Regions from separate parts of the Homo sapiens genome. Here regions 1, 2 and 4 are each reported to be linked to region 3. Evidence: microRNA targets listed by miRTarBase, many of them from high-throughput screens and not tested one by one. Region 3 holds a microRNA gene; each other region holds the end of a gene's coding sequence.

Region 1 (3,160 bases), not on the chromosome of region 3:
AACTTGTCAAATAGATCCTGAATCCAACAGACAAATGTGAACTATTCTACCACCCTTAAAGTTGGAGCTACCACTTTTAGCATAGATTGCTCAGCTTGACACTGAAGCATATTATGCAAACAAGCTTTGTTTTAATATAAAGCAATCCCCAAAAGATTTGAGCTTTCAGTTATAAATTTGCATCCTTTTCATAATGCCACTGAGTTCAGGGGATGGTCTAACTCATTTCATACTCTGTGAATATTCAAAAGTAATAGAATCTGGCATATAGTTTTATTGGTTCCTTAGCCATGGGATTATTGAGGCTTTCACATATCAGTGATTTTAAAATATCAGTGTTTTTTGCTACTCATTTGTATGTATTCAGTCCTAGGATTTTGAATGGTTTTCTAATATAGTGACATCTGCATTTAATTTCCAGAAATTAAATTAATTTTCATGTTTGAATGCTGTAATTCCATTTAAATTCCATTTATATACTTTAAGGAAACAAGATTACAACAATTAAAAAAACACATAGTTCCAGTTTCTATGGCCTTCCCACCTTCTGTTAGAAATTAGTTTTATCTGGCATTTTTAAACATTTAAAAATTATTAAACATTTAAAAATTAGTTTATTATCAGATATCAGCATATGCCTAATAAAACTTATTTTAATAAGCATTTAATTTTCCATAATATGTTACAGCCAAGGCCTATATAATAATTTTGGATTTGTTCAATCTTTCTTACAGGCTGTTTTCTATTGTATCAATCATTAGTATCAATCATTAAGTGGAAGTTGAAGAAGGCATCAAACAAAACAAGGATGTTTACAGACATATGCAAAGGGTCAGGATATCTATCCTCCAGTATATAGTAATGCTTAATAACAAGTAATCCTAACAGCATTAAAGGCCAAATCTGTCCTCTTTCCCCTGACTTCCTTACAGCATGTTTATTTATATTACAAGCCATTCAGGGACAAAGAAAGAAACCTTGACTACCCCACTGTCTACTAAGAACAAACAGCAAGCAAAATTAGCAAGCAAAATTCACTTTGAAAGCACCAGTGGTTCCATTACATTGACAACTACTACCAAGATTTAGTAGAAAATAAGTGCTCAACAACTAATCCAGATTACAGTATGATTTAGCTCATCATAATTCAGATTATTTTTAATCATCTTAGCCAAAACTGTAAAGTTGCCACATTACTAAAGCCACACACATCGTCCCTGTTTTGTAGAAATATCACAAAGACCAAGAGGCTACAGAAGGAGGAAATTTGCAACTGTCTTTGCAACAATAAATCAGGTATCTATTCTGGTGTAGAGATAGGATGTTGAAAGCTGCCCTGCTATCACCAGTGTAGAAATTAAGAGTAGTACAATACATGTACACTGAAATTTGCCATCACGTGTTTGTGTAAACTCAATGTGCACATTTTGTATTTCAAAAAGAAAAAATAAAAGCAAAATAAAATGTTTATAACTCTACTGTCTATGTTACAGGTCTTTTCCAAGAAATTTTGTAATTAATTAAATCTTACAGTACTTTCTAGATGGCAGATAGCTCTGGATGGTGCTCAATGCAATGAAAACAGGTAAAAGCAAGGCCAGCAGGCAGGCAGCTGTTGTAGCCAGAGGGAATTGCTTCTATTACATCAAAATTCTGAACTATGTCTATATTATATTTTAAAAGCTTCTTAAAAATTGCTAAACATAAGCACAACAAAATCAATGAATGCATGTACAAGTTTTAACATTTTAATTGCTGAATATCTTTAAGTGAACATCAGTATTTTCTGGCTATGAAATGCAAAAATAACACATTTACTTAAATACAGTTAACACCTAAAATTTAGGTAGTTGTAATGAGTTGTAATAAACAACATACTTGTAATAGAATTTACAGAATTAGAAAAAATTTTTTAAACTAGAATACTCTGAAAATTTTCCAAGCATTGTACATTATAAAATACATATTTACAAATAATATTAGTAGTGTATTCATGGGGCCAGGCATGGTGGCTCACACCTGTAATCCCAGCACTTTGGAAGTCCACTGTGGGAGGATCACTCACCAGAATTCTGAGACCAGCCTGGACAACAGAGTGAGATCCCATCTCTACAAGCAAATTTCAAAATTAGCTGGGCATGGTGGCACACGCCTATAGTCCCAGCTAATCAGGAGGCTGAGATGAAAAGGATCATCTGAGCACAAAAATTTGAGGCTTGCGGTGAGCTATGATTATGCCACTGCACTCCAGTCTGGGCAACAAAGCAAGACCGCTTTTCTCTTTTAAAACAATTTTTTAAAAGTGTATTCACAAACATTTGTCCACTATTTTAAACTTCTATAGCCTTGTTAAACATTAAACCCAAGAAATGGCAAACTATCTATAAAAATAAGGGCACAGCTACAAACTGATTGCCAAAAAAGTGTTGTTATAAATAAAAAGACACTAGAAAATACAAATACATCTTATCTTGCAAACTCAATAATGGTTCTTCGCACAAATAATAAAAATACAAAAAATAAACCTCAAAATTGTACTCTTATAGAACTTATTTTAATAACTTTCCATTAGTAACTGTTCTTTTTTGTTGATGAATAACTTTGATTCAGTGTCTATTCATCTTAACCTAGTAAATAATGAATGGTGGCTGTGATTTACAAAAGAATAAAATAAATGAGTACCCACAGTTAGTGCTTGACACGTCAACAGGTAGAAAAAACAATTTTTGTTGGCTCCCTTCTTCAACAGCATATGGAGCAGTATGTTGGAATTTTAGATTTGATGATGCTAAGGCTCCCCTGTCAACAGAAAAAAATTGAGCATCATTAGTATCATGCAGAGTTCCCCTAATAGGTATTATATTTGCAGGAATATGCCTAGAAAGTATCTAAAACTCAAACAAAAAGGGGTAAGAACAAAATGATGAAATAAGAAGGACTTTTTGCTGAGTTAAATAAAATATAGGCTGTTTCTTTCTCTTTTTTTGAAGTATCTAACTAGAGAAGTAGTTAGAAGCCAGACTACCAGTATCTGAATTCAGCATCTACTAGTCACTTATTCGTCAAACCTGGACTAATTACTTTTCTGTGCCTAAGTTCCGTGATCTTTAGAGGGAGATAACAACAAAATCTCCCTCTGATGACTAGGAAGAGTAAATGG
Region 2 (3,000 bases), not on the chromosome of region 3:
AAAAAAATCACAAAACAACCCCAACAGTGGTGAAGAACTATATTAAAGATGGCTTTTCCTAAGACAGAGGGAGAACAAAAGCAAATAGCACTCTCCCTCCGCCAAGGCTAGAGCAGGAGGTTCAAGGAAATGGGCAGGAAGAGAACAGAACACTCAAGCTGGACGATTAGTGAAGGAAACTGTGGCCTGAGACTGATGATCAGCATATCTTATGCCTAAACACCACCACTAAGACTACCTGGCTAAGCTGCCATGGTGTGTTAGAGATGATGAGTTACTTTTCTTGCCCCTTTTACAACAGGGAAATCTAAGGACAACAAAATAAACAAAAGGCTGAGAAAGCTGAGCATGTGAAGTCAGTCATGCTCCGCTGCTTTTCAAAAACTCTGGGCCAAGAACAGAACCAGAGAGGCCAGAGCAGTTCATGTATTTCTCTCTTCCATCTGACCATCTCTCATCTTCCTCACCCACTCACACGGTTCCGAGCAGGAGGCTTACCAGGTCACCAGGGGCAGGAAAATTTCTAGCTTCAACCAAGCCATGGACTGCCACTGCTCTTTGGGGATTCTAGGAAAATAATCATCTAATGAAATGTCAGTATTTGTGATTCTATGAGAACAATTCTCAAAACATCAAAAAGACATTTGTGACTTGGTAAAATAAAAATCAAAGAAAAATTAAGGTATTTTTAGAATCTGTAAGATTTCCTTATAATAGGAGGGAAAGTAGCAGAACTATTTTAAGTAAGGACATGCTTCCCTTCAGTCTGTAATGAAAGACTGTTGTTGTCATCATGCCATTGCCATGATAAAATACTACTAGAAAAGGATAGCTTTTAAAATAAAGTGTAGACGCAAATGGTAGAGAAAGCCTTCTTGTACTTGAAGGAAAGAAAGAAAGTATTCTGTCCCTGTTACTCCTGGACAAAAGTACACCAAGGCAACCTATAACCTCTCTGTGCTGTCTCTCATGACTTTTAATGACACGGAAGTCTGATATTCACTGAACAGTCATTATACAGTGCTTGGAAAGTAACATATATTTAATATTCAAATTTAATATTCATTCTTCTTATCCTCAGGTAAAAAAATAGCAGAAACCAAATAATGACTTGAAGTGGCATTAACACAAAGCAAACCTGATACCTATGATACCTAAAGACAGTGCAGGACAAGAGCTTCAACAGCTTTTATAAAACTGCCAGAGATTGTGCTAATTCTTTTACATCTAAAGAACTGTATAGAAGAGTAAAAAAATTAAATTACATTTATATAAGAAACTATCTTCGAAAAAGTTATTTGAACTTGTATATACAAAGTCCAACAGTATTAAGAAAAAAATTTATTTAATTATCATTTATATAAGTCCAAAAATGATATAATATATTATTTGAGGGGAAAAGGCTTCCACGAAATAGAAATACAGTAGACTAAATAAACTAGATTGAATATAAAATAGTTTCTTTGAAAACATCCATAAAAAGTAAAGACCAAATGGCACAAAGTTAAAAAAGTAATGCTTAAGGCAAACCAAATAAGTAACCTTAATTGAAGTAAGAGACATACTAACCCACAAGCAATAAAGTAACCCCCTCTCAAAAATTTCTGTATTAAAATGTGTAGAGAATATGAGTGGAAGCAGAAACAATGGCTGTTGTCAGAGCTTATTCTTGGAAGTACTGAACAGTATTATACAAAAATAATTTGAATACTTCTGATTTAAAATATACTTGAATCATTTGCCCCTTAGCTGTCATATAGCAATGAAAAAATAAAATGTATTACCCCAATGTTCATAGTATAAATCTGGGAAATGCCAAAAGTTATGTTTAAAATTGACAAAGGTATGATTTTCCAGATTACATGTGTACGTGATGGCCAAAAAGGAAAATAATCAATTCCATTATTTTGGCCCATATTACTGAAAACATGCACAGAAATGTGGAACATCTCCCGACAAGTAGGTGTCTTATAGTGACTGTTGAGCAGGCTGCTCAGCACCAGCCCTGAGATCGTGTGCACATACAAAAGTAGTCAAAGACTGACAGAAAAGAGATGAAGCCAAAGCAAATCATGCTTTTATAAACATTCAACCAACATGTTCTTTAATAATGTCTTCTTTAAAGAACAAAATAATCAAGTACATGGCATTAAGTTAAATGTCTCTGCACATGAATTTCCACCTTATAAATCTGGTATATTAAATTGTGCTGTAAATAGATTTGTATATTTTCTTTTTTGAGTACTATGATAGGTGAAATGGTATGACTATAAAAAGGATTTGTTTCTTTTTGTCTCCTGGAATGACATGATGCCTTTCTAGAGAAAGAAAAATTGCAGGCTACAGGAAAATGATAAAAACTACTGGATTCATTTAGACTATTCGATTTAGGAAGGTACAACCACTTCTTTAACATCAAGCTAAAAGTGGGGGAAAGTCTCAGTCTCCCAGGTAGGTCTCCTCTCACACTGTCCTGGGTGGCAGGCGCTGTTTATACATGCCCGCTATCGCTCTGGCTGCACTGTAGATCATCTGCCGACGGGACATCCCAGTAAATGCCATGTGCCAATCAGTCCGGCTGACATTCAGTAAACTCTTTTCCAGGACTTCACCCACTGTCACCAAAAGGCCTGACCACCTCAGATTATAGTCCTGGGGAGTTAGACTTTGAGCCTGTGGAAAGATGAAATTGATATTACTTATAATACATTTAAAAATATCATTGGAACTAGCTATAAGTGACATTTCAAAGTGTTTCATGTTATTTTAAATATAGATTATGACAAACTCTGAGAAATACAGCTAGGCTGCCAACTATATCAACTTACAAGGCTAGAACACAATCAATGTAACATTACACACATCTATTTTTTAAAAAATATCCCCATTAACGAGGCTAACAGTCGGAAGGTTTGAGTTCTAGTTCTAAATTAAGTGTCACTTCAGGTTAATAATAAGATTGGTACTAAAATCAGTGCTAAAGTTATCTTTTATAGTAGT
Region 3 (3,196 bases):
TGTTTGCAAGATGAAAATGCAAATATATGACGTAAGTGCTTCAATAATGAATTGATGGCAATATATTTTTTTCTGTTCCAGAAAACACCAGTTTGATCATGGAGAGGTAAAGACTTAATATGACTATAATTTTACTTATCTTAAAGTTGCATGCATTTGGACTTTCCTTTCTAGTTCCAGTTTCTAACTTTGTTGGCAATTGTCAGCAATCATCTTGAAAATAGCCTGTTATGTGTTTTTATGAGAATGCTATATGCAGATTCACTGACTATTCATTTGTTAAAATTAACTAGGAAACTCATATGTTCTGCTCTGATCATCTTTACACTAATGGCAGTTGATTTCTGGAGCCCATTTAGACATATGTATGAGGTGTCTATTGCATGATTGGAAATCACTTTCCTCTCTGCTCACCTTGCTTGAGGCCTCAGAGATGTGATTGGTTACTGCTCCCATCTCCTAGTTGTCCAGTCTGGTTTTGAGGGCAGTTCCAAGGTGGAGCCCTCAGATCTTGAGGCAGCAGTCATTTCTTTTACCACTGTCTTTTCTTGGTCTGATGGTAGCATCAAGGTTGATTAAAAAATGTGGGCTTTATTAACCACAGGTTTGACTCTGAGAATCACAGAAACACTTGCCTTAATGACTTTATAATTTTAGCCTTCCACTAAAATGGAACAGTTTGAAAGTGAATTTTAAGAATTGTTTTCGAAGTTTCAGAAACCTTAGTAGTATTTTTTGTTACTAAGGAGAACGTACCCCTTTCTGCATATTGCCAGTTTAGTATTCTTAAACTTCACAAACAGTAGGAGTAAAAAACATTTTCTTCTTTCTTTCAGCTGGTTTACCATGCATTGCAATTGTTAGCATATACAGCCCTTGGTATTTTAATTATGAGACTAAAACTCTTCTTGACACCACACATGTGTGTTATGGCATCACTGATCTGCTCAAGACAGGTAACATGTTATGTTGGAGTATAGCTACTATGATAATTTTAGCCTTTATTATTGAGTGGCCCTAAAATAATGAATTACAAAGTCTTTTAAGTGATTATAGTTAAAGCTCTTCATGGTTTTGTACTTATCTTTCTTAAAGGGTAAGGGCCAAAGCTGATCATTTTCTATCTTTCTAAAGATTTAAAATAGTTGTTGGTGTACAACTAATACCGATTTAGTACAGACTGAGTTCATGAGTGATTACTGCAGGTGCTGATAGAAAGCAGAGCTTAATTGTACAAATAATAACTTTTTTTGTTTTGACATTCATATCACAAAGAAATCTAATAATTTCAGGTTATAAGTGCTTGAAAATTATATGTTCTTTTTTTAGTATCAAACTTATTTTTTTTTCAGTTGGTGCAATTTGTGTGCACATTCTTGACTTGTGCTTTTTAAAATTTAGTTTAAGCCTTCCTTGGTGGTTTGCTGCTTATTTTTCCTGGATAGCTGCCTCCTTGTTCTGTATTCACAGATTTATGCTTCTCCATAGTGTCACCTTTCCATCAGTCAACCAGCCTAGGTACAACAGCAGCACCTCCCTTAGACGTAGCAGATAGTCACTAAGCACCTACACTGCGCACTCTAGGGATGGAGGAGAGAGTAGTAGACAGAAAAGTCAAAAGCCAGTGTTTATAAGCCCTCAAGAAACTTGAAATCTAGCTCTGTAGACATGTGGAGAAAGATCAAGAGAACAAAGTGTTGTTATGGAGTGTGGACTATTTGGATGTGGAAAAAATTAGCCAGCCTTGAGGTTCCCAATCAGTATGTTGTATTATGTTAGAAAGGCACTACTTTCTACCTTTCTGACCCCTTCAGGCTGGCACAGGAAAGGAGGCTGGTTGGAAGCCTTTAATCTTGAGTCTTATCCCACAGCATGACTGATGATATAGGTTGGTGCAAAAGTAATTGTGGATTTTGTCGTTAAAAATAGCAAAACCCGCAATTACTTTTGCACCAACCTAATAGAAAGTGTCACCCAGGGCAGGTTTTCCAAGTGTGGGGTTCCTGCTGGTCACACAGGACCTCACATTCAGGACCCTGAACTTGATTGAATGTTTGCTGCTGCTGTTTTGAACGTCTTAATTTTTTAACAAGAGACCCCACATTTTTGTTTTGTACTGGGCCTTGTAAATTGGTTGTGGCTTTACTTGAATCTGGGAGTAGTGAAAGCAGGTTGAGAAAAGAGCTTCCTACATTGTGTTCCACTTATATGAGGCTGATGGTAGAATCCTTTTGATCCCAAAGATTATTATTTTGGGGCTTTTTCTTTAGGATAATTAATCCTTTATTTGGGACTCTAGCAGAGGCCTTATTCTTCTCTGGGAAGAAGTTTTGCATAACAGATGCATACTACTTATACTAACAATTACCAATGTATTCTTAATTTGGTTTCAGCTATTTGGATGGCTCTTTTGCAAAGTACATCCTGGTGCTATTGTGTTTGCTATATTAGCAGCAATGTCAATACAAGGTTCAGCAAATCTGCAAACCCAGTGGAATATTGTAGGGGAGTTCAGCAATTTGCCCCAAGAAGAACTTATAGAATGGATCAAATATAGTACTAAACCAGGTAAAAAAAAAAAAAAGAAAAAAAAAGTCATATTATTTAGCTGTTTTTCCCACAATTTTATATACCACTGCAAACTCTTAAACCCTAGTTACTTCCACTGATCTCACTCTTTCTATGCAATGTTGCTTTTAGAATATCTAAAACAAAGGAGATATCAATCCTGTTTAAATGGTTTGCAGGGGAAATGTTATACATATGTTCTTAGTAATTTATTCTGCCATTTTTTATAGATTTTAATTTTTTCAAAATTTATTCACAGTCATAAATGCCACATTTAAAATAATTTTTCCTGTGCTTATTTTCTTAATGAATTTTTAATATTAGTCCTTCACATTCCTTCTTGAAATAAACTCATGGAATGTGACATTTTATTCATGTGTGGAAAGGGAGACTTTGTTGTCATCTGAGTATCAAATGATTGAATACTAAATCATCTTCCAGAACTCCTTGTTACTGTAAAGCTTTCCTAGTCCATTTGATACTTCTTTTTTAGATTCAGGAAAGATTTCTAAGATTTTTTCTTTAAAGAAAGAAAGAAATCTTTAATGATGAGATGATGAAGCTCTGTTTTCCAAGGAAAATAGTTTACCCAGGCCTGGCTGCCAACTGCTACTTTATCAGCCATCTG
Region 4 (3,196 bases), not on the chromosome of region 3:
TTCTAAAGGACCTATCTAAACCATGCTCAGACAGAAACTGAGACGCATTTGTTTTAAGCCACTAAATCTATGGTAATTTAGGACATAGCAATAGATAATACTGGTACTATCAACTTCCTTAGTTACCTTGTTAATTTCATAGTAACTGTATTAGGTGGCATCCAGACTATCCCAAATTTAAATACTAACAGTAGTATAAAAAGTCTGGCCCTTTATTACCTTTCCCAGGTAATAAAACAACTGGTTTCTAAAAGTTTGATATGGATTACACCTCTTAGGATTCCTCATAATCCTGTGAAGTAGATATTCCCATTAATTATTTAACTCAAATGACTAACAAGGGGCAGAGCTAGGAACTTGAGAACCAGCATCCAACCCCTGATGCCACCACCCTTCCAACTTTTATAGTTTCCCTAAAGTCTCAATGATGCTTCCCACTATGCCCATAGATAGTAATAAAACCACAGACAGTAAAAAGTACTGGGAACATTTTGTTCTTCCTTTTAAATCCATCTTATCCACTAGATTAATAATTGTGCACATCAGTTAAAATGTCTTTTATTCCAAAGTCTATGTCTCAGTGAAGAGGAATTTATTCCCTTCATGGCTTGTTATTAATACTAAGCACTTAAACTGAGTATATGTGAAAGCCAAAAACATTATTCTTACTGAAGACCTGTCAAACAAAGCCACAAAACAGCTCCTTTTATTTTCTAGTAAGACTAGATTTATTCAATACCCTAGTAAAAGTTTTGATTATAAGTATCCAACAGTATAAAAAGTACAAAACAGATCTGTAGATTTCTAATATATTAATACAAAGTGCATGACTACATACAGTACATCCTACAGGCAAAGAGAGGTGGAAGGGGAAAAAGAAGACTGTGGTTGAGGTCTAGTAATAAATAAATAAATACAGAAGTAGAGATGATCCATATTATAGTATATTCTACCACCAATACTGCAGCCAAAATGTACAAAAAAAATCATTTCAAATAACTCAGGAGGATGATAATGGCTGGACTTTTGTAATTCACCTCAAAGACTGTGGGAGAGCCAACTCAACTCACTGTATAGTCTGTGCATATGGTGGCTTGTAGCATGTAGGTTTTTTCCAAAAGAAGGAAATATAAAATGTTTAGATTAAGAACTATAAAACTACAGGGTGCCTATAAAAGGTGGCTTACTCCTTATTGTTATTATACTATCCAATTTTTAAAATGCAGTTTAAAAAATAAGCACTGAGTCTTGTTATTACAAGGCAGGCAAATGTTTCTCCCTCATTTTGAAAAGACTGAACTGGCAATGCTTTTCCTGAACATTTAGAAAAGAGGCAGTAAGAGTACTCTGGTTTGGGTTCAAGTGAGAGGCTTTTCATGAAAATCTTAGGATTGAAGAGCTCTAAGTTCAGGATATCTCAATGTTCAGAAAGCCTGACTAAAAGAAGCCAAACCAAAACCATTTAATGTGAACACAAACCTCTTTTCTTTTAGTAAGTTTTACTTTTAATACAGAGTGAAAGAAAATAAAAATTTAATAGGCTAAAACAAGTCAAACACCCATTCTACACAGATAAAAACCTTCACAAAGGTCAACTGAAGTAATCCAGAGCTGAAACTGAATTGTGCAGATTTTCAATGAAGTCACAGAAGTCATGTAACACAAACAAAAGTCGATTATATTTACACACTCAGCAAGCCCTCTAAGAAATGTGCCCCAAGAAGCATTAACCTTTGTTTTGTGCCATCCTGAAGACTTGCACATTTTATTTTTCAGATAGCTTAACATTTTTAATCGAGTGTGTTCTCTACCATGCGGTAATGCTTTGGTACTATTCATACAGGGTCTTGCCTATCCTAAAGACTTGCCATTTCCCCAAGAGGAGCTTTGATTCTGCTTTAGAAGTTTTACATAAATTAAAATCTTTATCAAATATTAATATGAAGGGAGGCACAGGATGCAACATATATAGTCAAGTTACCTCTCTGTATATTTAGAAATTACTTTCTCCTCCAAGGTATTTGCAACAGAAAGCTCAGTCTGTCCTGCTTAATAATCAGTAGTACAGGTGTGAATCATCAGAAGCTTGGCAAGACCTTAATATTTCAAAATTATTAACAACTACCTCTAGGGGCAAGTTCATGTTACTGAGTTATGACAAATTTATTATCATGAGGGAAAACAAGAGTAGCCAGCCATCTTAAAAATGCCCCAACCACTGCTTCTCAAAACAGAAAGACTAAAAACTACATACAGTTTATCATACAACAAATCCCATCTCTGTCCCCTGAAATTCCCCTAGTTTCATTCATTAGAAGGGGATTAAAAAAAAAAAAGACTTAAAGAGCACTTTACAGCAGCATTCAGCTTTCCTATGAAATACTCAGCATCTTAAATATTATATACAACTCTTTTTTTAGTAAGCTAGACACTGGCTTCAGAGTTTGTGGGAGTGGGGGAAATCAACCCATTCAAAACTACTCTAGAAATTGTCTTTTGGCAGAATAGCAGGTATCCAAGTTAAAAATAAGAGGGTCATTTAAGACCAGCCTGGCCAACGTGGTGAAACCCCGTCTCTACTAAAACTAAAAAATTAGCCGGGTCTGGTGGCGGGCACCTATAAACCCAGCTACTTGGGAGGCTGAGGCAGGAGAATCACTTGAACCCGGGAGACGGAAGTTGCAGTGAGCCAAGATCACGCCACTGCACTCCAGCCTGGGTAACAAGAGCAAAACTCCGTCTCAAAAAAAAAAGAGGGTCAGTTTGTAGCTTTGTGGTTTTTCAAAATTCAGATATTTTTTTTTTTGTTCCCCTTCTACATAAAAACCTCAGTCACCACTCCTGAGTGGAGATGGGCAGAGGCTCTGGCCCCTGCTCCTCTGGCTTCTCAGCAGCTGCTTTCTTATTGCTGCAGCAAGGCTTGAAGAGATGTGTGTCAATGAGGACTTCCCCAAAACGGCCTTTATAGATGATCCCACAACATATCTTCTGTCTAAAAGAAAAAATGGAGAACAAGATACATTAATAAGGAAGAAAAATAGGAATACAAAAGAAATCTACTCACTATTATAACTAGTCCAATATAACCAAAGAGTTGTGCTTCTACAATCTTGCACATTCCAAGTGAAAGGGCTCCTAGAGTAACCCCAATTAGCTAGAGAAGGGGAATTACCCAGTTGCCTTAAAGGCCACACTG

What was found. The annotated mature microRNA hsa-miR-548n reads CAAAAGUAAUUGUGGAUUUUGU and lies in region 3 at 1,896-1,917, shown strand. An mRNA with a match to its seed (bases 2 to 7 or 8) in the 3' UTR can be bound and repressed. Matches are read on the target gene's strand: a 7mer-m8 pairs with bases 2 to 8, a 7mer-A1 pairs with bases 2 to 7 and ends in A, and an 8mer does both.
Region 1: the mRNA of PACRGL is a reported target of hsa-miR-548n. Seed matches in the 3' UTR shown: 7mer-A1 at 2,298-2,304 and 7mer-m8 at 247-253.
Region 2: the mRNA of PRRC1 is a reported target of hsa-miR-548n. Seed matches in the 3' UTR shown: 7mer-A1 at 2,422-2,428, 7mer-m8 at 2,026-2,032, 7mer-m8 at 1,509-1,515, 7mer-m8 at 1,479-1,485 and 7mer-m8 at 926-932.
Region 4: miRTarBase lists SINHCAF as a target of hsa-miR-548n. Seed matches in the 3' UTR shown: 7mer-m8 at 778-784 and 7mer-A1 at 745-751.

Annotation. Positions count from the first base shown.
Region 1 is chr4:20,726,924-20,730,083 of GRCh38, reverse strand. PACRGL (parkin coregulated like) reads right to left here. Exons shown (of 9, transcript NM_001258345.3): 9 at 1-2,799. The coding sequence ends at 2,743. It overlaps KCNIP4 (potassium voltage-gated channel interacting protein 4), which reads left to right. Exons shown (of 9, transcript NM_025221.6): 9 at 1-1,478. The coding sequence ends at 2. Among named protein-coding and RNA genes, the nearest start is that of PACRGL, 28 kb to the right of the region's middle.
Region 2 is chr5:127,551,380-127,554,379 of GRCh38, reverse strand. PRRC1 (proline rich coiled-coil 1) reads right to left here. Exons shown (of 9, transcript NM_130809.5): 9 at 1-2,673. The coding sequence ends at 2,464. Among named protein-coding and RNA genes, the nearest start is that of PRRC1, 35 kb to the right of the region's middle.
Region 3 is chr7:34,939,525-34,942,720 of GRCh38, reverse strand. It overlaps MIR548N (microRNA 548n), which reads left to right and starts at 1,887; the gene lies at 1,887-1,961. It overlaps DPY19L1 (dpy-19 like C-mannosyltransferase 1), which reads left to right. Exons shown (of 22, transcript NM_001366673.1): 17 at 82-106; 18 at 837-956; 19 at 2,394-2,568. LOC102724723 (a long non-coding RNA gene) reads right to left here and starts at 495. Exons shown (of 3, transcript XR_001745166.2): 1 at 415-495.
Region 4 is chr12:31,279,880-31,283,075 of GRCh38, forward strand. SINHCAF (SIN3-HDAC complex associated factor) reads right to left here. Exons shown (of 6, transcript NM_001135812.2): 6 at 705-2,992. The coding sequence ends at 2,833. Among named protein-coding and RNA genes, the nearest start is that of FLJ13224, 43 kb to the right of the region's middle.